4 linked regions of the Homo sapiens genome follow. The gene in region 4 interacts genetically with the main gene of each other region. Each region holds a gene or a part of one and is shown on either strand. Other genes may lie near its edges.

The links.
Region 1: changes in PRKAR1A (region 4) and SPHK2 together harm fitness less than expected from each alone (positive genetic interaction), as found in Homo sapiens cells (one large-scale study listed by BioGRID).
Region 2: changes in PRKAR1A (region 4) and MAP3K5 together harm fitness less than expected from each alone (positive genetic interaction), as found in Homo sapiens cells (one large-scale study listed by BioGRID).
Region 3: changes in PRKAR1A (region 4) and AGPAT1 together harm fitness less than expected from each alone (positive genetic interaction), as found in Homo sapiens cells (one large-scale study listed by BioGRID).

Annotation. Positions count from the first base shown.
Region 1 is NC_000019.10:48,620,675-48,626,039, forward strand, and holds part of SPHK2 (sphingosine kinase 2), read left to right. Parts: intron 1-4,354; exon of another isoform or gene 4,355-4,402; intron 4,403-5,216; coding exon 5,217-5,365. UniProt on the Homo sapiens protein: Catalyzes the phosphorylation of sphingosine to form sphingosine-1-phosphate (SPP), a lipid mediator with both intra- and extracellular functions. Also acts on D-erythro-dihydrosphingosine, D-erythro-sphingosine and L-threo-dihydrosphingosine.
Region 2 is NC_000006.12:136,690,656-136,696,020, reverse strand, and holds part of MAP3K5 (mitogen-activated protein kinase kinase kinase 5), read left to right. Parts: coding exon 1-70; intron 71-1,710; coding exon 1,711-1,881; intron 1,882-5,365. UniProt on the Homo sapiens protein: Serine/threonine kinase which acts as an essential component of the MAP kinase signal transduction pathway. Plays an important role in the cascades of cellular responses evoked by changes in the environment.
Region 3 is NC_000006.12:32,171,420-32,177,454, reverse strand, and holds the start of AGPAT1 (1-acyl-sn-glycerol-3-phosphate acyltransferase alpha isoform 1 precursor), read left to right. Parts: upstream 1-1,370; 5' UTR 1,371-1,641; intron 1,642-4,338; exon of another isoform or gene 4,339-4,517; intron 4,518-5,949; coding exon of another isoform or gene 5,950-5,958; coding exon 5,959-6,035. UniProt on the Homo sapiens protein: Converts 1-acyl-sn-glycerol-3-phosphate (lysophosphatidic acid or LPA) into 1,2-diacyl-sn-glycerol-3-phosphate (phosphatidic acid or PA) by incorporating an acyl moiety at the sn-2 position of the glycerol backbone.
Region 4 is NC_000017.11:68,520,565-68,525,929, reverse strand, and holds part of PRKAR1A (cAMP-dependent protein kinase type I-alpha regulatory subunit), read right to left. Parts: intron 3,175-5,365; coding exon 3,004-3,174; intron 2,206-3,003; coding exon 2,114-2,205; intron 1,915-2,113; coding exon 1,853-1,914; intron 1,019-1,852; coding exon 972-1,018; intron 177-971; coding exon 18-176; intron 1-17. UniProt on the Homo sapiens protein: Regulatory subunit of the cAMP-dependent protein kinases involved in cAMP signaling in cells.

The sequences.
Region 1 (5,365 bases), on a different chromosome or scaffold from region 4:
GCACTCTGGGAGGCCAAGGCCTGCGGATCACCTGAGGCCAGGAGTTCGAGATCAGCCTGGCCAACATGGTGAAACCCCATCTCTACTAAAAATACAAAAATTAGCCAGGCATGGTGATGCGCACCTGTAATCCCAGCTACTCGGGAGACTGAGGCAGGAGAATCATTTGAACCCGGGAGGCAGAGGTTGCAGTGAGCCGAGATCGCGCTGCACTCCAGCCTGGGTGACAGAGTGAGACTCCGTCTCAAAAAAAAAAAAGAAAAAACAGGGTCTCACTCTTGCCCAGGCTGGAAAGCAGTGGCACAATCACAGCCTACTGCAGCTGCAACCTCCTGGGCTAAAGTGATCTTCCCACCTCAGCTTCCCAAGTAGCCTCCACCATGGCTGGCTAATTTTTTTATTTTTATTTATTTATTTATTTTGAGGTGGAGTTTCGCTCTTGTTGCCCAGGCTGGAGTGCAATGGCACGATCTTGGCTCACTGCAACCTCCGCCTCCCGGGTTCAAGCAGTTCTCCTGCCTCAACCTCCCAAGTAGCTGGGATTACAGGCATGCGCCACCACACCCAGCTACTTTTGTATTTTTCATAGAGATGAGGTTTCTCCATGTTGGTCAGGCTGGTCTCAAACTCCCGACCTCAGGTGATACGCCGGCCTCGGCCTCCCAAAGTGCTGGGATTACAGGCATGAGCCACTGCACCCGGCCAATTTTTTTATTTTTTCTAGAGACTAGGTCTCCCTCTGTTGCCCAGGCTGGTCTTGAACTCCTGAGCTCAAGGGATTCTCCCACCTCAGTCTCTCAAAGTGTTGAGCTTACAGGCATGAGCCACCGCGCCCAGCCTGGGAGCCCTTCCATAAGTGATTTCAGACCTTCTCTCCAGGCAGGTGTTCCAGTGGGATAATTTAGGAATCAGAGAAACTGAGGGGTTGAGGAGGATACTTATTATTTATTATTTAGGTGCACTGGCCCAGTCAGATTAACATCGAAAAAGACTGAGCACCGAACAAAGAGTCAAGTTACATTTTAAGTATTTCGTGGGGTAGGGGGAGATCTGTGCAGGGGGAAGCATATTATAGCAGCGAGAAACAAAGACAGTTATTCAATTGAGACATGCATTACATTATTTCTTACTTTTCAAGGAAAAACATGTTTTAGGACTTGAGTTTATCCTGTCTAGTGACCTTGCAGCTGCACAGTTAGAGAAACAGGGTCTTCACGATGCCTGGGAAAGGGAGTTAGATAAGGCTCACTAGCCACAAACAGAAAAACAGGCAGTTAATTTTTAAAGGACTCAATCTCGGGCCGGGCGCAGTGGCTCACGCCTGTAATCCCAGCACTTTGGGAGGCCGAGATGGGCGGATCACGAGGTCAGGAGATCGAGACCATCCTGGCTAACACGGTGAAACCCCGTCTCTACTAAAAATACAAAAAAAATTAGCCGGGCATGGTGGCGCGCGCCTGTAGTCCCAGCTACACACGGGAGGCTGAGGCAGGAGAATGGCGTGAACCCGGGAGGCGGAGCTTGCAGTGAGTCGAGATCGCGCCACTGCACTCCAGCCTGGGCGACAGAGCGAAACTCCGTCTCAAAAAAAAAAAAAATAAAAAAAAATAAAGGACTCAATCTCTTTCTCTTCCTCAGGGGGAATTGGGTTTTTTACATACAACTGAGTTTTTGCTTACACATTCTTTAATTTCTTTTAATTCCTGTTTCAGTGTGAATAGCTTTCTCCCTACTTCCCAGACAGGACAGCTGAGGCCAAGAATTCAGGGGCTTCCCAGCAGTCACACAGCAAGTGTGTGTGAGCTGCAGGGTCCTTTCTCCTTTTCCTCCTCCCTGTCCTCTCGTCTGTGTGACTTAGGCTCTATGTTTGAATCTCAGCTTCTTTGCCCAGTGTCTCTGCCTTTCCTTCTCCCAGGGCCCCAAGCTCAGTTGCTGTGCCCCAGTCTCAGTCTTACTGGGTTTCTGTTCCCCCTTCTCTCCGTGTCATTCCTTGGCACATACTATCTGGTGCTGTTGCTACTGTGGGTTGGATGCTAGGTACATGATTTGGCAATAAGCAAACTTCTTCCTACATTTGTCTCTCTTTTTTTTTTTTTTTTTTTTTTTTTTGAGACAGAGTCTTGGTCTGTTGCCCAGGCTGGAGTGCAGTGGCATCATCTCGGCTCACTGTAACCTCCGCCTCTTGGGTTCAAGCGATCTCCTGCCTCAGCCTCCTGAGTAGCTGGGATTACAGGTGCGTGCTACCACACCTGGCTAATTTTTGTATTTTTAGTAGAGATGGGGGTTTTGGACCAGTGAGGTGGCTCACGCCTGTAATCCCAGCACTTTGGGAGGCTGAGGCGGATGGATCACGAGGTCAGGAGATCCAGACTATCCTGGCTAACACGGTGAAACCCTGTCTCTACTAAAAATGTAAAAAATTAGCCGGACGTGGTGGCACGTGCCTCTAGTCCCAGCTACTCAGGAGGCTGAGGCAGGAGAATCGCTTGAACCAGGCAGGCGGTTCAGTGAGCCTAGATCGTGCCGCTGCACTCCAGCCTGGGTGACAGAGCCAGACTCCATCTCAAAAAAAAAAAAAAAAAAAGAGAGAGAGACGGGGGTTTCTCCATGTTGGTCAGGCTGGTCTCGGACTCCTGACCTGGCGATCCACCCGCCTCGGCCTCCCAGAGTGCTGGGATTACAGGCGTAAGCCACCACGCCTGGCCTACAGCCTACATTTGTCACTTTCTAGTGAGCTCTGTCCTTGTCTCCTAATGCATATCTCTTTCTCTCTATGCAATTCTGTTTCTAAGTCTCCTAATATATACTTGCCTTTCTTTCAATTTCACCATGTCTTTGCCTCGGTGCATCTGTCAACATCTTCACTTTCTGTCCCAGTTCCTCCCAGCCCCTGGGCTTCCAATATTCTCTCCCTCCCTCACCTTTGACCTAGAGATACTGTCCCCATCTCTCTGTCTCTGTCTTGCCATGTGACTGGTTCATTCACTGGGCAGATGTTTATCTCATGCCGCTTCCATTCTGGTTTGAGCCTGAGATAAATAAGTCTGAATTAATGAGCCTCTCCTTCGCGGCTTCCATTCCAGAAGTGTCTGTCTCCATCTGTCTCCGTGTCTGTCATTTTCAGGGTTTTCTTGTATCCTTACCTTGCACATTCTCAATCCCACTGTTTTGGTCTCTTGTTTATATCTCTGCTTTTCTCTGGGTCTCTCTGACTCTGTAACTGTCCGAAAAAAAAGTATCCTTCACTTTCCCCACTCTCCCTCTCCTCCCAGCTCTCTTATTGCCTCATCCAACCTCTGTGGGTCTCTGCCTTGCTCTGTGTCTGGATCGGATCTCTGGGCCTTTGTTACGCGTGTTAGAGTCTCTGTCTTTGCAGCTAAAGACCTCCTCCCTCACGCCCCTTTTCTTTTGTGAATTCAATGGATGAGACAGGCCCACTCTCCCTTAACAAAGATGGCGACAACGGCGCTGTCTATGGGGCCGCGACGTCGTCTCCGCTGCGCGTCGGCCCTCACCCACGATGGCGGCCAGTCTCCCGAAGCGCGAGGCCCCGCCCAGCTCTCGGCCTCTCCCGCGGCCGGTCCCTGCACCAAGCTCGCGAGCTGACTGGCTCCACCCCCCGCGCCCTCGTATTGGTGCGGCCCAGGCCGGCTGCACGGCCATTGGCTGAGCGGATGCACACCCTCCCCCCACCCCTAGGTCTGATGGGGGCTGTTGGTGCTGACTTGCGGGACCGCCTGGAGGAGGACCCGGCGTGTGAGGAGGGTGCGGGGGTCGGGGCAGGGACCGGAGTCTAGGGGACTGAGGGACCAAGAGGAACAGAGACTCAGGCCCGGGACTGGGGCACCGGGGTGGGAGATGGAAATGGAAAACCTGGGCCAGGACTGAACCCAGCCAGGCCTGGGACTGGGTTCTGGAAATAAGAGTGCGGATGGCGGTTTGGGGGCCCAGGGCCAGACACGCAGGCCTATGGATTGGGGACCAATGGATGGAGACCCAGGTCCAGGTCTCGGGGACCCAGGGACAGAGACCCAGGCCCAAGACTGGAGGACATCTAGGGCTCTGTGCTTGAACCTGATTTGAGGTTCCCATAATGGGGCCAGGGCAGGTTTGGGGGTGAAGCAGACGTCCTGGACCCGAGAGAGCCGCTGGGGATAGGGGGGCAGATGTAGTTCCTAAGGGTGAGTCCACAGGCGGTGGGGGGTGGGGGGCTGTCCTGGCGCTCTGGGCCTGGGGAATGTGAGGGGCAGGACTGGCAGGTGGCTGGGCGGGGCAGTGGGGAACAAAGGTGAGCGAAAGGAGGAGGCAGAATCCGGGCAGAGGGCAGGGAGAGGGCCTGTGGGGAAGGGACCTCAGTCCTGCTCCCACCCGCTCCCTGGAGAGCAGGCGGCCAGACACCCAGGTCAGTGCTCAGGGACCAGCTCTTGGCCCCTGCCCCTTGCAGGCGCTCGCATGTGGCTCCTCTCGGACCCCGTAGTCCCTGTCATATCCCTTCTCTCCAGCTGTCTCCATGCCTGCCTCGTACCCCTCCTATTTGCTCTCCCTTCCACTCTGTCTTGCCTTTCTCGTTGGGGTGAAAAAGTCTTACTCTCTTAAGTATCTTTCATCGCCTGAGTTTCACCTCATTGACCCTGTTTGTCTCCTCTCAGTGTTTCTCTGGCTCTCAGACCCTATCTCTATTGCGTTTGTGATTGTTTTGCTGTTTTACCCACTGCACCGTATGGGGGGTGGGGGTGTCGGGGAGGTGTGTCTTTCAGTCTTTGCATGTCTGTTTCTGCATATCCAATCCCACTATCCATTCCCCTTCCTGTGCCTTCTTTTCCCCCAAAGCCCGTTATCATCACCCAACCACCTGTATATTTCAATCCTTTCTCTTGTTTATCTATTCCTATGAAGGCAAGGATTTGGGGCTATTTTGTCTCCTGCTGTGTTTGCTAGGCCTAGCACCGTGATTGGCACATAAAGGGTACTGAATACTTACTGGGGAATAAATGATTGGATGTTTGCATGCCCGGGTCTCCGGCCCCCTCTGGGATGCTGGCCTCTGTCCCGCATCCTCAAGGTCTGCCCACACCTGTCTGAGCCTGTCTGTCTCTGATGCTCCTGTCTCACCTGCCACTGCCCCTCATTGTCTCCTCCTGTCCACAGCCCCTGCCCCTCCCTGCCCCTGCCATGGGGTCCTGAATTCTCACCCCTTCTCTCCTCCCTTCCCACAGAGGCCAGACCAGGAGCTGACCGGGAGCTGGGGCCACGGGCCTAGGAGCACCCTGGTCAGGGCTAAGGCCATGGCCCCGCCCCCACCGCCACTGGCTGCCAGCACCCCGCTCCTCCATGGCGAGTTTGGCTCCTACCCAGCCCGAGGCCC
Region 2 (5,365 bases), on a different chromosome or scaffold from region 4:
AAAAACTGCCAACCTTTGATTTGGCCTCCCATCACCATGTGAAGTTTCATTATGCATTTGCACTGAATAGGTAAGAAGAAAAAGTTCCCTTCCAGAATGCGTTAACATATTATTGTGTAACCTGCAATTCTTTACAGAGAATGTGTTCACTGCAGCATTGCAAGAAGTCCCTATTAAAATGTAATATTAGCATATCTGCTTCAGCCCCATGAAATATAGGAAGCATGCATTCTCATTTTTTTCTGATTTATTTTTCAGTAAAAAAAAAGTCGCACACTGTTGGTATATTTAAATTCTTACAGGTTTTCTGCTCTGTCAAAGTTTGTATTTGCTATTCATATTTTTTAGAATTGTAAAAGTTACATGAATATGATGTTATCTTTAAGCAAATACACTCAACACCAGATGGTCATTCACACAAAAGTTTTCACTAGAGTAAGGATGGTTATGTCTAGGTGAACATAGTGTTAGATAGTTATTACCAAGGATAAAAAGGAATTTCTTGGACAGAAGATTTGAAGTAGTAATTGAGAATAGAAATGATACCTTTTTTATAATAGCTTTATTGAAACATATTTCACAGGCTGGGCGTGGTGGCTCACTCCTGCAATCCTAGCACTTTGAGAGGCCAAGGTGGTCGGATTGCCTGAGCTCAGGAGTTCGAGAGCAGCCTGGGCAACACGGTGAAACCCCGTCTCTACTAAAATACAAAAAAATTAGCCAGGTGTGGCAGTGTGCACCTGTAGTTCCGGCTACTCGGGAGGCTGAGGCAGGAGAATCGCTTGAACCTGGGAGGCAGAAGTTGCAGTGAGCCAAGATCATGCCACTGCCCTCCAGCCTGGGCAACAGAGCAAGACTCTGTCTCCAAACAAACAAACTAAATATATTTCATCAAAACAATAAATTTTAAAACATTTTCATCACTCCACAAGGAAACCCTGTACCCATTAGCAGCCCCCCTTCCATTTCCCTCCCAAATCCCCCAACTCTAGGCAACCACGAATCTACTTTCAGTCTTTACAGATTTGCCTATTCTGGACATTTCATATAAATGGAATCATACAGTATGTGGTCCCTTGTGACTGACCTCTTTCACTTAGCATAATATTTTCAAGGTCTAAGGAATGATAACTCTTATAGAATTTTTATCTGGTTTTGTGAACTGTCTACACATACTATTTTAAAGCATGCTACATAAAGCAACTTCCTTAGATAATCAGTTAGTCACACGTAGAAATCAAGCAGTTCTTGGGTTTGATTTGATTTTTGGTATCATCTGTGAATGAGTTTGCTAAGTTTTGGAGCAAAAGCCATTGAAACCTAAGGTCAGGGTTTTGTCCCTACTTGGCTTTATTTACTCTACCCTATTCAAAGACACAGACTACAACTCTAATCTCGTTTCACCAACTTGAACCTGCATATAGGCTGCAGGGAAATTGGAAGGATTGTGGATGAGTAAGTACAAATCCATCACCATTATTAACACAGAAACTCAAAAGAAATCCTTGTTAGACCTAGTAGACATACAATGGGATAAAACAAAAAATTAGGCTTAGGACAGAGGTTTACAGAGGACTCTCAAAATCTAATTGTTTCTGTCCTGGCAAATTTCTCTAATATGAATCAACATGTTAAATAGGGTTTTTAAAAAAGAATTGATCTATATTGCTTCTGTAATGTATATTGAAACAACAATGTTTTCTGCCTTAGGAGAAATCTCCCTGGTGACAGAGCAAAAGCTCTTGATATTATGATTCCCATGGTGCAAAGCGAAGGACAAGTTGCTTCAGATATGTATTGCCTAGTTGGTCGAATCTACAAAGATATGTTTTTGGACTCTAATTTCACGGACACTGAAAGCAGAGACCATGGAGCTTCTTGGTAAGTAAATAGTATATAAATGAGCTACTTACTTAGTAAATCCATGGCATAAAAAAGTATTTGCAAATGAGAGTGTTAAAGTATTATTATAATCCATAAGATTGTGTATTATGAACTAAACCTTAGATTTTATTTTATTTTATTTTATTTTTGAGATGGAGTCTTGTTCTGTTGCCCAGGCTGGAGTGCAGTCATGTGATCTTAGCTCACTGCAACCTCTGCCTCCCAGGTTCAAGCGATTCTCCTGCCTCAGCCTCTCCAGTAACTGGGATTACAGGTGCCCGCCACCACGCCCACTAATTTTTACATTTTTAGGAGAGACGGGTTTTGCCCTGTTGGCCAGGCTGGTCTTGAATTCCTGACCTCAGGTGATCCAACTGCCTCTGCCTCCTCAAGTGCTGGGATTACAGGCGTGAGCCACCGGGCCAATCTTAGAGTTTATAACTTTAGTAAATAATTTGATGAAATTCATTTAACATAGTATAGTAAATTGGGATAAATAGATGAAAAGATAATTTAAGAAATATAATTTTAAAAAGATATTTTAAATAAGTAATATAAATAATAAAATATAATTTTGTAGAAAAATTTATATAAAGACAGTTTAAAAGACCTGAATGAAAGGAAAAAATATACCGAGTTTGTAGATGAGAAGGCTTGATATTTTAAAGATTTTAATTCCCCCCAGCAGGGGTTTTCATGTGATTTGACAAACCAATTCCAAAATTTATTTGAAAGAATAAAGGACTGAGAATAGGCAAAGCAATTCTGGAAAAGCACAAGGTGGAAGGACTTGCTCCACCAGTTAACAAGACTCATTATAAAGCTGTAATGATTAAGATATTGCAGTATGGCTATAGGCATAGACAAACAAAGCACTGGAATACAAGAGACAGCCTGGAACAGACTAAGATATACATGAGTCTAGATTTATGGCAGAATCAGCTTCATGAGCTGTAAAGGAAAGGATGGAATCTGTAGTAATGATACTGGGAAAATTTCTTTATCTGCTTGGAAAAATAAAATAAAGTTCTATCCCCATTTTAAGCCATGCACAAAAAAATGAAATCTAAGTGAGTTAAATACCAAAATATGAAAAAATACTTTAGAAAAATATTTTTAGAATAAAGTGTACAAATTATGTATGACTATTGGATAAGCAAAGATTTCTTTCTTTTTTTTTTGAGACAAGGTCTTGCTCCGTCACTCAGGCTGTAGTGTAGTGGTGCAATCTCGGCCCACTGCCACCTCCACCTCCTGAGCTCAAGTGATCTTCCCACCTCAGCCTCCTGAGTAGCTGGGACCACAGGTGTGTGCCACCACGCCTGGCTAATTGTTTGTATTTTTGGTAGAGAGAGGGTTTCACCATGTTGCCCTGACTGGGGCAAAGATTTCTTAAACAAGGCTTAAAAACGCCATATACCATAAAAGATAAGACTGGGAAAATGGTCTACATGAAAATTGGCTTCTGCTCATCAAAGTAGTAGCTTTTGGAAACAGCAGAGTAGATTCTATTGTGCTTATCTTCCTGTTGATAACAATTATAAATGTTGGAAAAAAGTTGGAAAGCACTGAAGAGTGATTAAAAGTAGCTAGAAACTGGAAAGGTTTTCATCCTTGGATGAAGGGCACCGCATAGGATAAACTCCACATTTAAATGGCTTTTCCCTCAAGACATTCCCTGGTCTGCAGGGAGCAGGACAGATAGAACTCTAGCAGGAAATCACAGTCTTATTGGCCTGAGAGTGAGTTTGAGGCTGCCGGAGGACCTGGACATTGAGTGGGATAAGCCTTTGTGTGAACAAGGTGAACCACCAATAATTTATTTACCTTTTATTAAAAAACTACATACTCTTAAGAGGAGGAGAACAAATCCAAACTCTCTACAGCTTATCATCCAAAATGTCTAATACACCATAAAAATTACTAAGCAACCTGGGTGTGGTGGCATGTTCCCATTGTTCCAGCTACTCAGGAGGCTGAGGTGCGAAGATGGCTTGAGCCTAGGAGTTCAAGACCTGCCTGGACAATATAAAAATACCTTGTCTTATTAAAAAAAAGAAAAAAAGAAAAAAAAGAAAGAAAAACTCTCAACTACTAAAGTGGTGAAGAAATAGGAAAGTGTGATTCATAATTAAGAAAAAAATTATTCATAGAAATAAACCCATAGATAAAACAGAGTTTAGAATTACCAGACAAGGACATAAAAATAACAATGATAATTATATCAAAGAATCTACTTGAAAAGATGAACATAATGGGTGAAAATATGAGGAATTATAGGAGATATTTGGAAACTGGAAATAACCAAATGGGAGTTCTAGAACTGAAAAGTACAATATCTGAAGTTGAAATGTCATCAAATCAGATTAACAGCAGATAGGACACAATACGATAAAAGAGCAATAAACTTCAAAACAGATTATTAGAAATCATTGAAATTGAAGCAGAGGAAAGAAAGAGATGAAGTCATTAATAATTCCAATGACCTGTGGCATTTAGTGGTCTAAATACTTTTTTTTTTTTTTTTGAGACGAATCTTGCTCTGTTGCCCAGGCTGGAGTTCAGTGGTGCAATCTCACCTCACTGCAACCTCTGCCTCCGGGGTTCAAGCGATTCTCGTGCCTCAACCTCCCAAGTAGCTGGGATTACAGGCATGCCCCACCATGCCCAGCTACTTTTTGTATTTTTAGTTGAGTCCGGGTTTCCCCATGTTGTCCAGGCTGGTGTCAAACTCCTGACCTCAAGTGATCCACCTGCCTCGGCCTCCTGAAGTGCTGGGATTACAGGTGTGAGCCACCGTGCCCAGCCTTGAGTGGTCCAGATACTTTTAATTAGAGTCCCAGGAGAGGAGAGATATACTGTTGCAGGGATAATAGTTGAAGAATTAGTGGTCAAATATTATCCAAATCTGTTCAAACAAACAAACAAATAAAAAACAGCTCACAGATCTAGGAAGCTCAGCAAAACCCAAGGAGCATAAATATCAAAGAAAATTATCTCTTGGCACATCATAGTAAAATTGGTGAAAAACAGAAATACAAGAAAAGGTCATAAATGCAGCCTAAGAAAGAAGATACATCAGGGGAAAGAGTGAGTGCTGAAGGAAGCCAAAAGATAATGGAATAACATTAAAGTGCTGAAAGAAAAAAACCCAATCAAGCAAGAACTCTATATCCACTGATAATGTCTTTAAAATATGGGGGTGAAGTAAAGACAATTCTAGATACATCAAAACTGAGATAATTTGTTGCCAGCAGAACTTCACTACAAGAAATGTTAAAGTCTTTAGGCTGAAGGGAAATAAAACCAAATGGATCTATAGGAAAAAGCATATAGCACTGGAAATGATAAATATATGAATAAATATAAAAGATACCATCAACAAAGAAATCACAGGGAACAATGCATGTAACCAATATAGGATATGTATTCAGTATATATAAATAACTCCTCAAAATATCTTTAAGAAAAAGAGATTAAA
Region 3 (6,035 bases), on a different chromosome or scaffold from region 4:
AAACCTTCAGAGCAGGAAAGCTCTGGGCTCAACCCCTTTGTGAGTGGTGCAAAAGGGACAAAGCCCGCCCCTTTTAAGGAGACCCGCGGAGGCTAGACCCGCCCTTTCCTCTTTATAATTTGCCCATCAGAAATAGGGTCTTCTTCCCAGGTTGGACCCCGGGGAGTTTGGGCTTTTCCTACAATCACTGACCCTCACTGTGACTAAAGGAGCAGAATTAGGTAACAGTCCTCCCACTACCAATCCTCTTCCCGAGGGCATGTAAACTAATGCAGGGTAAAGGTGTGGCTAGAGGGGGGACCTTGATAAAAGATCCCATGTGACTCAAGAGTAAGGAAAGATGAGAAGTTAGCAGTTGCGTAAAGAAGGACTGGGGCAGATGAGGATTCAGGAAGCTTGAGGTTTAGGAAGGAAGATATTGAGAGGGAAAGGTGGAAATGAAGGAGAGTGAAGTGATGGAATGATCCTAGTAAAGGGATAATGGGAGTGGAGGAAGAGAAGAGGGGGTGGAAAACTAGATACATGGCTACCAAATTAAGGAGGCACGCGCATTCCAGAGGAATCGGCATTCTTCCTCACTTTTTATTTTTCTAGAAAGCACCCCTGAAGCCAAATTTCCATTGGAAGAAAAGATGTACCCATATTGTATGTTGTGAGAAGGGGTTGTCTCAGCTTGGGCAAGTAAGGAGACTGATACGAAGGAAGTAGGAAAGAAAAGGTACAGAGGTAAAAGAGCATGGAAAAGGAAAGGGTCAGGGATAAGGCCAAAGAGATCTCTTCTCTTTAAAGGCCAGAGAAGGCAGGTGGAGGGGGGAGCTGGACTGCTGGGAGATAGTGAGGGACAAAGGGCAAAGGAAACCAGACCAGAGGACTGGAGAGTGAGATGGAGTGAGATGGAGTCCTGGAGAGAAAAAGAAGAGAGGTGAACTTAATGCTTGTCATATGGTAGGTAGATGCTTGATAAATGTTTAGAATTGAATGGGTACGGGAAAAGGGGTCCTTAAGAATAGTTGGGGGGAATAAGCAGCAGATAACCGGAGTTGAGAAAAAAAGAGACCAAGTAAAAGTGGCAGTTAAAAGAGAGCTGATGGAGAATAAAGGAAGGAATGTGCGGAAGGAGGAATACAGCACCAGGGGATCCAGAGCTGAAAGGGAGTTAGAGAAAAAAAAGATGCAGCTGGAGCCAGAGATGGGGGCAAAGACCGAGGGAGAGCCCTGGGGCGGGGCTCGCAAGAGGACACTGGTAGATGTGGGGAGGAGATGCCAGAGTTTCTGGGAGACGATTGGCAAAACAGGCTGCCCATCACCGCCCTCCACTTCCTGGCCGGCCCCGGAAACCAGCAGGCGTTGGGGAGGGGTGGCGGGGGAATAGCGGCGGCAGCAGCCCCAGCCCTCAGAGAGACAGCAGAAAGGGAGGGAGGGAGGGTGCTGGGGGGACAGCCCCCCACCATTCCTACCGCTATGGGCCCAACCTCCCACTCCCACCTCCCCTCCATCGGCCGGGGCTAGGACACCCCCAAATCCCGTCGCCCCCTTGGCACCGACACCCCGACAGAGACAGAGACACAGCCATCCGCCACCACCGCTGCCGCAGCCTGGCTGGGGAGGGGGCCAGCCCCCCAGGCCCCCTACCCCTCTGAGGTGTGGGCGGGAAAGGGATGGGAGGAGGAGGGAAGAGGGTGCTGAAAGCGACTAGGATGAGGGGAAGGGGAGAGATTGGGTCTGGGAGGGCCGACTGGGGGAGAGGGTTGCTGGGGAAAGGAGAGGGGCCGACTGGGAAGAGGGTTGCTGGGGATAGGAGAGGGGACCTGAGAGGGAGGAAGGATGGAAGAGACCTGGGAGGGAGGAGAAATGGAAACCCTTGTGAATTTGGGACTGGGAGCGTGCACAGGGAATCCTGGAGAGGGAATTCCCTACACCTTCCCCAATTCCTTTTCTTGCCCTTTGACCCCACATGACTCTTGAAGGGTCATGAGGGGAGAAGGCCAGCAGAATTTGCCTCTTAGGAATACCCTTAGGTGCCTCTGTTTCCATCTAGGCACAGGACCTCTTGTTTCTCAGTGGCCTTCCACACTGCTAGACCCTTACTGACACACAAATGCCTTATGGGAGCCATGTTTTCTACATTGAGTCTGTGTGCCTTTGACATGTTTAATGGCTTGTGTGCAACTAGGTTGTCCCAATGCTATCCATAGGCTGTGTAGAAATGGTGTGTTATTTTCTATCAGAATTGCCCATTCTTCATTCTTGTGTCCATGTCTCACATCCAGTTTTGACATGTTTTAAGTACCGCATGTGTGTGAGTTTTCATATATTGCACCTGTTCTATAATTTCATGTTACTTGCACATTTTATGTTTTGGCATGTTTATTTCAGCATGTGAAGGTTATATACCTTATTTTGCTTTGGCTGACATGTCCATGGTCCTACCATTTGCAGTAGTCTTCATGTGTGGGATCCCATGGCTTGGCTGAATACCCCACACTCTGATGTCTGACTGAATTGGCCTGTTTGCTGTGTTTTCCCAGTCACAGTTCACAGAACACATGTGTATGCGCCTTTGCATGATACACTGATGTAACAGGACCATAGAATGTGTGTTATAAATTTGTCATCAGTATATTTTGTGAGCCGTATGCTCATTAAATTTGGCCCTCCATTGCATTTCTAAATCCTTGGACTTTTGTTCTCCAAAGAGGGTCACTTAATATCAAGTGTTAAGAGAAGAAGGTAACTGGGTCTCCAGGTCTGCAAAGAACCATCCCTGCATGCCTTACCTTGGTGACCTCCCTGGCCCATACCTCTCTACACAAACATTATCTTTCCAGTGGCTGTGTACAGTCTGTGTCCATGAGCTCAATGCATGTCACAGGGTCAATCCTGCTGTGAACCCCATTGTTGGTATTTATTTATGGACATTATCCTCCATTCTTTGCACTGTTGGCACACATTTGATGAGAGCAGCATCTTTCCCTGTGGCATCTTGATCCCATTCGGTACATTTCTCTTGTGAGATGACCTCTTCCTGATTATTGTTACTCTGCCTTCATTATGGCTATGTATTGCATGTATCTATTCAGAGTCGGTTACCATTAGGCTTGGTGTGTTCGTTACTTTCTCAGTGACTTCTTTTAGTAGTCACTTCTACTCAAGAGGATAACTATCTAATTTGTGATCAGAACCGCCATCTCTGTCATTAACTGTGGCTCTATGGGTGGGTATACAGCCTTAGAATCTGTTCAGCAAGTGTTTATTGAGCACCTACTCCATCTCCTATTGTCCTGGCACTGGAGATAAGACAGAGTCCCTGTCCTTAAGCTGCTTACAGCCTAAGGAGGGAAACAAAAACGCCAGTCAACACATAGTGTGTTGTCAAGATCAGTGGTTCTTAAATTCAGGCGCACATCAGACTCACCAGAGGGCTTGTTGAAATACAGATTGCTAGCCAGCCACGATGGCTCACACCTGTAATCCCAACAGTTTGGAAGGCTGAGGCAGGAGGATCGCGTGAGTCCAGGAGTTCAAAACCAGCCTGAGTGACAGAGTGAGAAAAAGAAAAACAGATTGCTGGACCTAATGCCCAGAATTTCTGATTCAGTAGATCTGGGGTGAAGTCTAATAATTTGCATTTCTATACTTCGAGACCCGCTGATCAAGATAAAAGTGTAAGGAAAGCACAGGCCTGGAGGGGTTCAGGCAGCCCTCCAAAAGGTGACACTGAGCTGTGTGAGGCAGGAGAAGAGACAGGCATTCCAGCCAAAGGGAACAGCATGTTCAAGGTGGGGAAGCATGAAAGATCATGGTGTCTGAGGAACTGAAGTGAATCAGTTTGACTGGAACAAAGAGTTTTGTGAGGATGTGGTCGAAGATGTAAGCAGAAGTCAACTTATCAAGAAGAGCCTTTAGGCAAGACAGGGAAATGCTCTGTGTTTCAGAAAAATCTGTGCTAACAGAAAAATCTCTGTGGTTGCTACGTGGAAGATGGATTGGAGGGAGTTGGGAGCCTACTCCACATAGTTCAGGGGAGAAATGATGCTGTTCTGAACTTGTAGGGGCAGTGGGATGGAGCAGCTCAGAAAGCCTACGGTATTCCAACTGGCAGGGTCTCCTGTTTCCTCTATTGCCTGTTACCTTCTCGCTTGGCAATAGGCTTACCTTTGAGCATAGCCCTTCCCATCATGGGAAGACAGTGCCTGTGGCCTCAGTAGGAATGACAGGTATTTGCCTGAACACCCTTTTTGTGAATTGTTACCCTGCCCCCAACACTGGGGCAGAGTGGAGGAAGGAGGAAGAACCTAGAACACAGGTTCTGTGTTCCTGCCTCTCTTCCTCTTGAGCCCTTTCCTCTCCCAGGGCAAGTGCTGTTAGGTCACCTTTACTCCATTCCCTCCTTTTTTCACTTGGTGAGGCCTCACACACTGTACCTGCCCACGCAAAGTGTCACTAGAAGGAAGGGAAAGGGTAGTAGGATTCGTTTGCCTGTCTGGAGGTAGGATTGGTCTTTGTAGCTATTCCAGGTATGTCCATAAGTTTACCTAGGAATAGGGGAGCTGCCTGGGTGGAGAGGGATTTTTCTAGTTATGCATTTACATTCTTTTATCTGTCACTGGGTGTAATTATAAATTTGTGTCTATGTGTGAACATGTTAGTCTTTGTATGACTGTGTGTCTGTTGGCATTAGTGACACGAACTTTTAATCTTGCCATTTGGCCCTTGGGTATATGGCTGTGAGTGTTCTGTCACAATCACCATATATGCTGTGTGCTGTGTTCGTATATATATATGCAATACATACCAGTGTCAGCGTAATGGAGTGGTTAGGAACACAGGCGGCTTAGATTTAACCTAGAAACTGCTGTTTAGGAGCTGTATGACCTCAGGTAAGTTATTTAGCCTCCCTGGGCCTATTTCCTATAAAATGTAAATAGTAATAGTACTTTCTAGACTATCATATGCATCATTTTAAGAGTTTAACTTAATGTATAGACCAGTACTGTTCTACAGAAATATAATGCAAGCCACAATGTAATTTTTTTATGGTAGCCACATTTTTACAAGGCAAAAAGAGTGAAATTAATTTTAGTAATATATTTTCTTGAATCTGATAACATCCAAAAGATTATAATTTCTTTTTTTTTTTTTGGAAATGGAGTCTCACTCCATTGCCCAGGCTAGAGTGCAGTGGCGTGATCTTGGCTCACTGCAACCTCCGCCTCCCGGATTCAAGCGATTCTCCTGCCTCAGCCTCCCGAGTAGCTGGGATTAAAGGCATGCGCCAACAGGCCCGGCTAATTTTTGTATTTTTAGTAGAGACGGGGTTTCACCATGTTGGTCAGGCTGGTCCTGAACTCCTGACCTCGTGATCTGCCCACCTCGGCTTCCCAAAGTGCTGGGATTACAGGCGTGAGCCACTGCGCCCGGCCCAAGATTATAATTTCAAAATGTAGTCAGCATAAAAGATTAGTAATGGATATCTCACATTTTGTTTTTTATTCAGTCTTTGAAATCTGATGTGTATTTTACATTTCCAGCACATCTCAGTTCAGACTAGCTGCATTTCAAGTAGCCACATGTAGGTGGTGGCTACTTTCTCGGACAGCACAAGTATAGACCATTATAAGACCCTTACCAGCTACAAGTGTTAGCTATTATTCTTGTTGTCATTTATTATCAGGTATCTGTGAATTGTAGATGTCTGTGTCTTGTGTCTCTTGTCTGAATATATCCGGAGCCTTTGGGAAGAGTGGTGGGAGAGCAGTCCTGAGCTCTTTCTCCACCACCCTCATCCTAGAGAGCCTTCCTGGGAAGGTTTCAATGAGACCCCTGCCCCAGTTTGTGTCTCAGGCCCTTGTCCTCATAGCACCAGCCCCCAGCCCTGCCTTCTGTGCCTTGCCTACCCCACTCTCCTCCAGAAACCAGGCTGATTGTCCCTTGCCCCATCCCCTGCAGGTGGCCAGAATGGATTTGTGGCCAGGGGCATGGATGCTGCTGCTGCTGCTCTTCCTGCTGCTGCTCTTCCTGCTGCCCACCCTGTG
Region 4 (5,365 bases):
ACACCATGGTCTCTTACCATGAGGATTCTTCTATAGCTGTCTCGGTCGATGCCCCACAATTTCACATTTGTCTTTGCTTTGACAGTGGCTGCTCTCGGTGTTCCATAAATCAAAGCAAGTTCTCCAAAGCTCCCTCCTTCCCCAACACTGGTTGCCCATTCATTGTTAACATAGACCTAAAGTGCAAGTGACATCAAAAAAGTTTATTTTCTAGATACAAACACTTAAATGTTAAAAACCCTCAAACCTTTTTAAAAGGTCACAATCCTGAACTTTGTTTTAAAAAACAGAATATATTATGTTTGCAGTACACAACAGAGAAGAATAGGTGATTTCTGACGAGTTAAATGAGTTAAGAGTGTCTATAATTTACCTGATTTAATTATCTGATAAGAAAAAAGCACTCTGTAAGGATGTAAGGGAAAAAGGTCAGCTAAGCACTAATACCAGTCACAGATACTTAGAGAACCGTGCTGAGCACTATGCTAAACATTTTACTTGCATTAGGTCACTGAATCTTCTAATAATCCTAAAAGATCAATGCTATTATTGTCCCCATTTCATTTGTGAATAAGAAAGGTATATTAATTTTGCTAGCTAATGGCTGGGTCTAGAATCTTTTTTTTTTTTTTTTTTTAAGAGATGAGGTTTCACTTTGTTGCCCAGGCTGGTCTTGAACTCCTGGGCTCAAGCAACCCTCTTGCCTCCATCTCCCAAAGTGCTGGGATTATAGGCATCGGCCACTGCACCCAGCTACACACACTTCTTCACCACCACTCCAGCAAAGTTCTGAACAGAAAATTACCTTTAAAGAGTTTCTCTGTGTCATAAAAATACTTGGCAAAAGGTATTAATAAAATCTGACATACAAGGGATGTAATGACCCTTCAAAATCACTATTCTTATTGCTCGGAAGCGATCAATACATTGGCTTTTAAGATCAACATATTTTTGATATTGGTAAATCTTACATCCGTCTCTCCTTGATCAATCACATAGAAGTTATCCCCTTCATCACCTAAAAGAGGGTAAAAAAGTTAGAAGCATATTCCAAATTAAAGAAAGAAATTATCAAAATTATTACAAAACAATAAACTTATTTTACAGTGGTACTGTGAGAGTGTGTTACAAACTAACACAATCTTTCAGGGGAAAGAAAATCAAGCAACATATTTTAAAAGTCATAGAATTAATCAAAATTTTTTTAGTCATCTCATGGTGAAGAATACCTCTGAAAAAAATTTTTAAAAGCTACATATGTGTAGTTATTAACTGCTATGGCATTTATAACAAGGACATTAGAAACAACTCAAATAGTTAATAACAAATTATCAGGCTGCCACAAAATGAAAATATATACCCACTCATAAAATGTCAAGAATAAATAAGAAAATAAAAAGAGGAAGATAGTCAAAAAGTTAGATCCATGTTAGTCTATATAGGCAAAGTAAGAATCTATAGAAGTCCTAGAACCTTTTTAATAGACAGGGCTATACAATGAAGAATGTAGGTGTTTCATTTATTTCTTACTTTAAAAGTGATTAACAATATAAAGAACATGAGAGATATATATGATTCTGCAATTCTATATGACATTCAAGGTAAGACAATGTAGGCATTTCCTTTAAATTATAAACAAAACTGTATCAAAAATATTAGTTCCCAATACAAAGTGTTCTGTCCATCTCAGAAAATCTTAATTTAAAAGAAATAGAAAAATCCAATAGTATAACAGAAAAAAAAAAGTGGTAGGATCAAAGAGGAAAACAAACTTCAATAAAACAAAACCAAAAAAATCCTCTAGTCTCGCCTCCTCTCCCGTAACAATATTGCATGCTCCAGAGGCCCTTACCTTGCTGAATCACAGTCTCTCCTGCGATAAAGGAGACCGAAAACATGGCATCAAAAATATCACTGCAAAAGAGAGAAGGCCTCGTGTTACATTTCACATGTCTCTTCCGTGAATTTCAAACATTAAGCTTAGAATTAAAGACCCCAGACTGTCATCTGGTGAACAATTACTAAGAGCTCTAAAACTTGCAACAAGTGTTGAAAACAATTTGGGATCACACCCTTACTTGAAAAATAGTGTTAAGAAAGAGCCTGTTCCTACCTTCTCTCATTATCATCAAGATGTGAAAACAGCACATTCTTTTCAATGGCTTTGGCTAAAGCGGCCATTGTCTTGTAATCTTTTGGTATAACCTAGAAAAGAACTGAAGGTCAAATGACAATTCCATAAACCAAAAACATTTCACGTTTGCAACCTGCGCTTCAATTAAATGTCAAGCCACATTATGGTATTTAAACAAGACTGCTTTGTAGTGTTTCACTACAACACACTTGTACTATCTTTGATCCATAAACTACTCAACAAGTATTGACTAATTAATCCCCTTGCCTACAGCCAGGCCTAAATATAAAGTCTGGTACTTGGTTCCCAGTTAACAACTAAAGAAACAAATCAAAACACCTGGACCAAGGTCATTATTCTGAGGCAAAACTAAGTATTTTATAATAATTAGTCATTTTAAAAATCTGTGATCTGTTAGCTTCACAAGCCTCAAGTGCCAGGACAATTCTGTTCCCCTTTAAGGCTAACAGCATAACTCAAAATAGCCTGGCTCTGAGGAAGAGGAGAACACAGGACAAATGAGGCTCGTAGAATAAAAGGTTAAAAGCCACAACATTTAATAGGATAGCAAAAAAAGGACATCACGATTCAAGAGAAAAAGCAATACCGCCCACCTCCTTCTACTGCAAAACAACTGCAAGGAAATAACAAACCCCAAAATGCAATTATTCACTAGTTCATAATCACTATTAGTTATTTCCTCTGACAGCATGCTATTACAGAAACCTGTTTTCCAGTACCCAAGAATTGTACAGGATGGATGAAGTTCCACCCTGTTTTGTATTTTATGATTCATTCATCAAAGGAGACTAGATGACCACCAAGTGGGTCCCAAAAGCATCCCCCCGATATTCAAATATCAAAACTACCTTTCTAACATAGGATGCCGCATCTTCCTCCGTGTAGACCTCAGCGCTGATAGCACCTCGTCGCCTCCTACCTTTAACCACTGGGTTGGGTGGAGGAGGAGAAATCTCATCCTCCCTTGAGTCTGTACGAGTGCCTGCTTTCTGCAGATTCTGAATCTGTTTTGCCTCCTCCTGAAAGAAATTACGAGTTTGCAAAATGAGATCCTTCGGCATGTAAAGCTGGCACTCTCATGTTCCAATGATAGTCTATCTCAGTCACTTCCAATCTCTTCTTCCATTAACAATGTAAGTTAAGAGGAAAACACCAATTCCAAAGGGGAAAAAAAGAGAGTAACACTTGAAACACTCTCAACAGAATGTACCTCAGATGATAACAGATGCTATCCTTTATTAATGGGCAAAAGTCATTAGTACAAGCCATTAGTACTCACATAACATGTGAGTAACAAATCAGATATTCATTAATGTCTTGACAACAATTATCTGTGATGCACACAACAGTAACACACTGCAAGACAAAATCCTGAAAATTGGGTTTTTTTGGATGCTACTGCAGATAGCAAGAGACCCTCCTGCCAAAAGAAATGTTATCAGGAAAAACAATTCAAGCCCAACATAGTGATCCAAGAATGTCTAGATTACTGAGTTATTTCATTAACTCAATAAGCCATTTTCTGGATCTGCCAGGCCAAGACCTATGCTAGGCAACAGGAAATTAAAAACAAATAGGAGAGGGTCCTGAGCCTGTGGAATTCACATTCCAGTTTGATCCCAGATAAAAACAAATAATGAAATGATGTGATGGTAACCACGAATTTAAACGAGATCGTATCTATAATACTTCTCCCAGCAGAGCTAGGATCACTCTTTGTAATCAAGGTTTAAACTTGAAGTTAAAAGACAAAAAGAGTTTACTTGCTTTTAAAAACTACTTATTGGACCAATTCAAATAAAACCTAAGATAAACTATTAAACATTCCTTTTTTCACATCTAGAGCCTTAAAAACAAATTCCTCTCAGATCTAAAGAATTAGTTGTTGTGCCTGAAGTAAAAGGGAAAAAATAAAAATGTGTTATCTTCTACTTTCTCATTCATTTGACCCGTTATTTCTTTTCTATATATAAATTTGTAAGTGCCCATATATTAATCTCCAGAACATTGGCAGCATTCAAGAAAAGCAATGGCGTGGGAGGGAGACCTTTCATTATTATGCCCCTTTGTACCTGCACAACTTTGAAATATGTGAATATGTAACCTACTTTTTAAAATATGGTTTTTAGAAAACTCATTTCATGTTAATTCTGGTTGTTCCAATAACCAGTAAGGTTTTCTCATTTCATATTAACACAGGTATAAAACTCAAGTCTCTCCCAAGTTTAAAGTTTAAGAATACATGACTGGGTACAGTGGCTTACGCCTATAATCACAACCCTTTGGGAGGCCGAAGGTGGCAGATCACTTGAGTCCAGGAGTTCGAGACCCGCCTAGGCAACATTGTAAAACCTCATCTCTACAAAAACACATAAAAATTAGTTGGGCGTGGTGGCACACACCTGTAGTCCCAGCTACTTGGGAAGCTGAGGCAGGAGGATCACCTGAGCCTGGAAGGTAGAGACTGCAGTGAGCCATGATCGCACCACTGCACTCAGGCCTGGGCAACAGAGTGAGATCCTGTCTCAAAAAATAGGCCAGGCATGGTGGCTCACACCTGTAATCCCAACACTTCGGGAGGCCAAGGTGGGCAGACCACAAGGTCAGGAGTTCAAGACCAGACTGGCCATTATGGTGAAACCCCATCTCTACTAAAAATACAAAAATTAGCCAGGTGTGGTGGCAGGCACCTGTAGCCCCAGCTACTCAGGAGGCAGAGGCAGGAGAATCGCCTGAACCCAGGAGGCAGAGGTTGCAGTGAGCCGAGATTGCACCACTGCAGTCCAGCCTGGGTGACAGAGCAAGACTGTCTCAAAAAAATAATAATAAAAATAAAATAAAACACACACACAGTTTAAGAGTATAAATGAAAACACAAATTCTCCCACCCCCAAATTTGTCACTGACATTTCACAAAAATTTCAGGAAAAATTTCACAAATAACATTTCACTTGGGACTACATTCTACTTCACTGAATTTTTAAGATTAATTTTGAAGTAACAAAAGCATTCTGATTTTAGCAGTGTCTCATGGATTCTAGTGAGTCTTTTAAAAACAGCAATCTGAATATAACCTAATCTGACAACTCAGAGCCATTACTCAGATCATGAGTTTTCTAGTATATACTATGATATATTTTTATATCCTTTCTCTTGCTGTTGTCATCCTTCTGTCAGTCTCCTTCCTCCTCAGCTCTTTAAGTGAGGTGA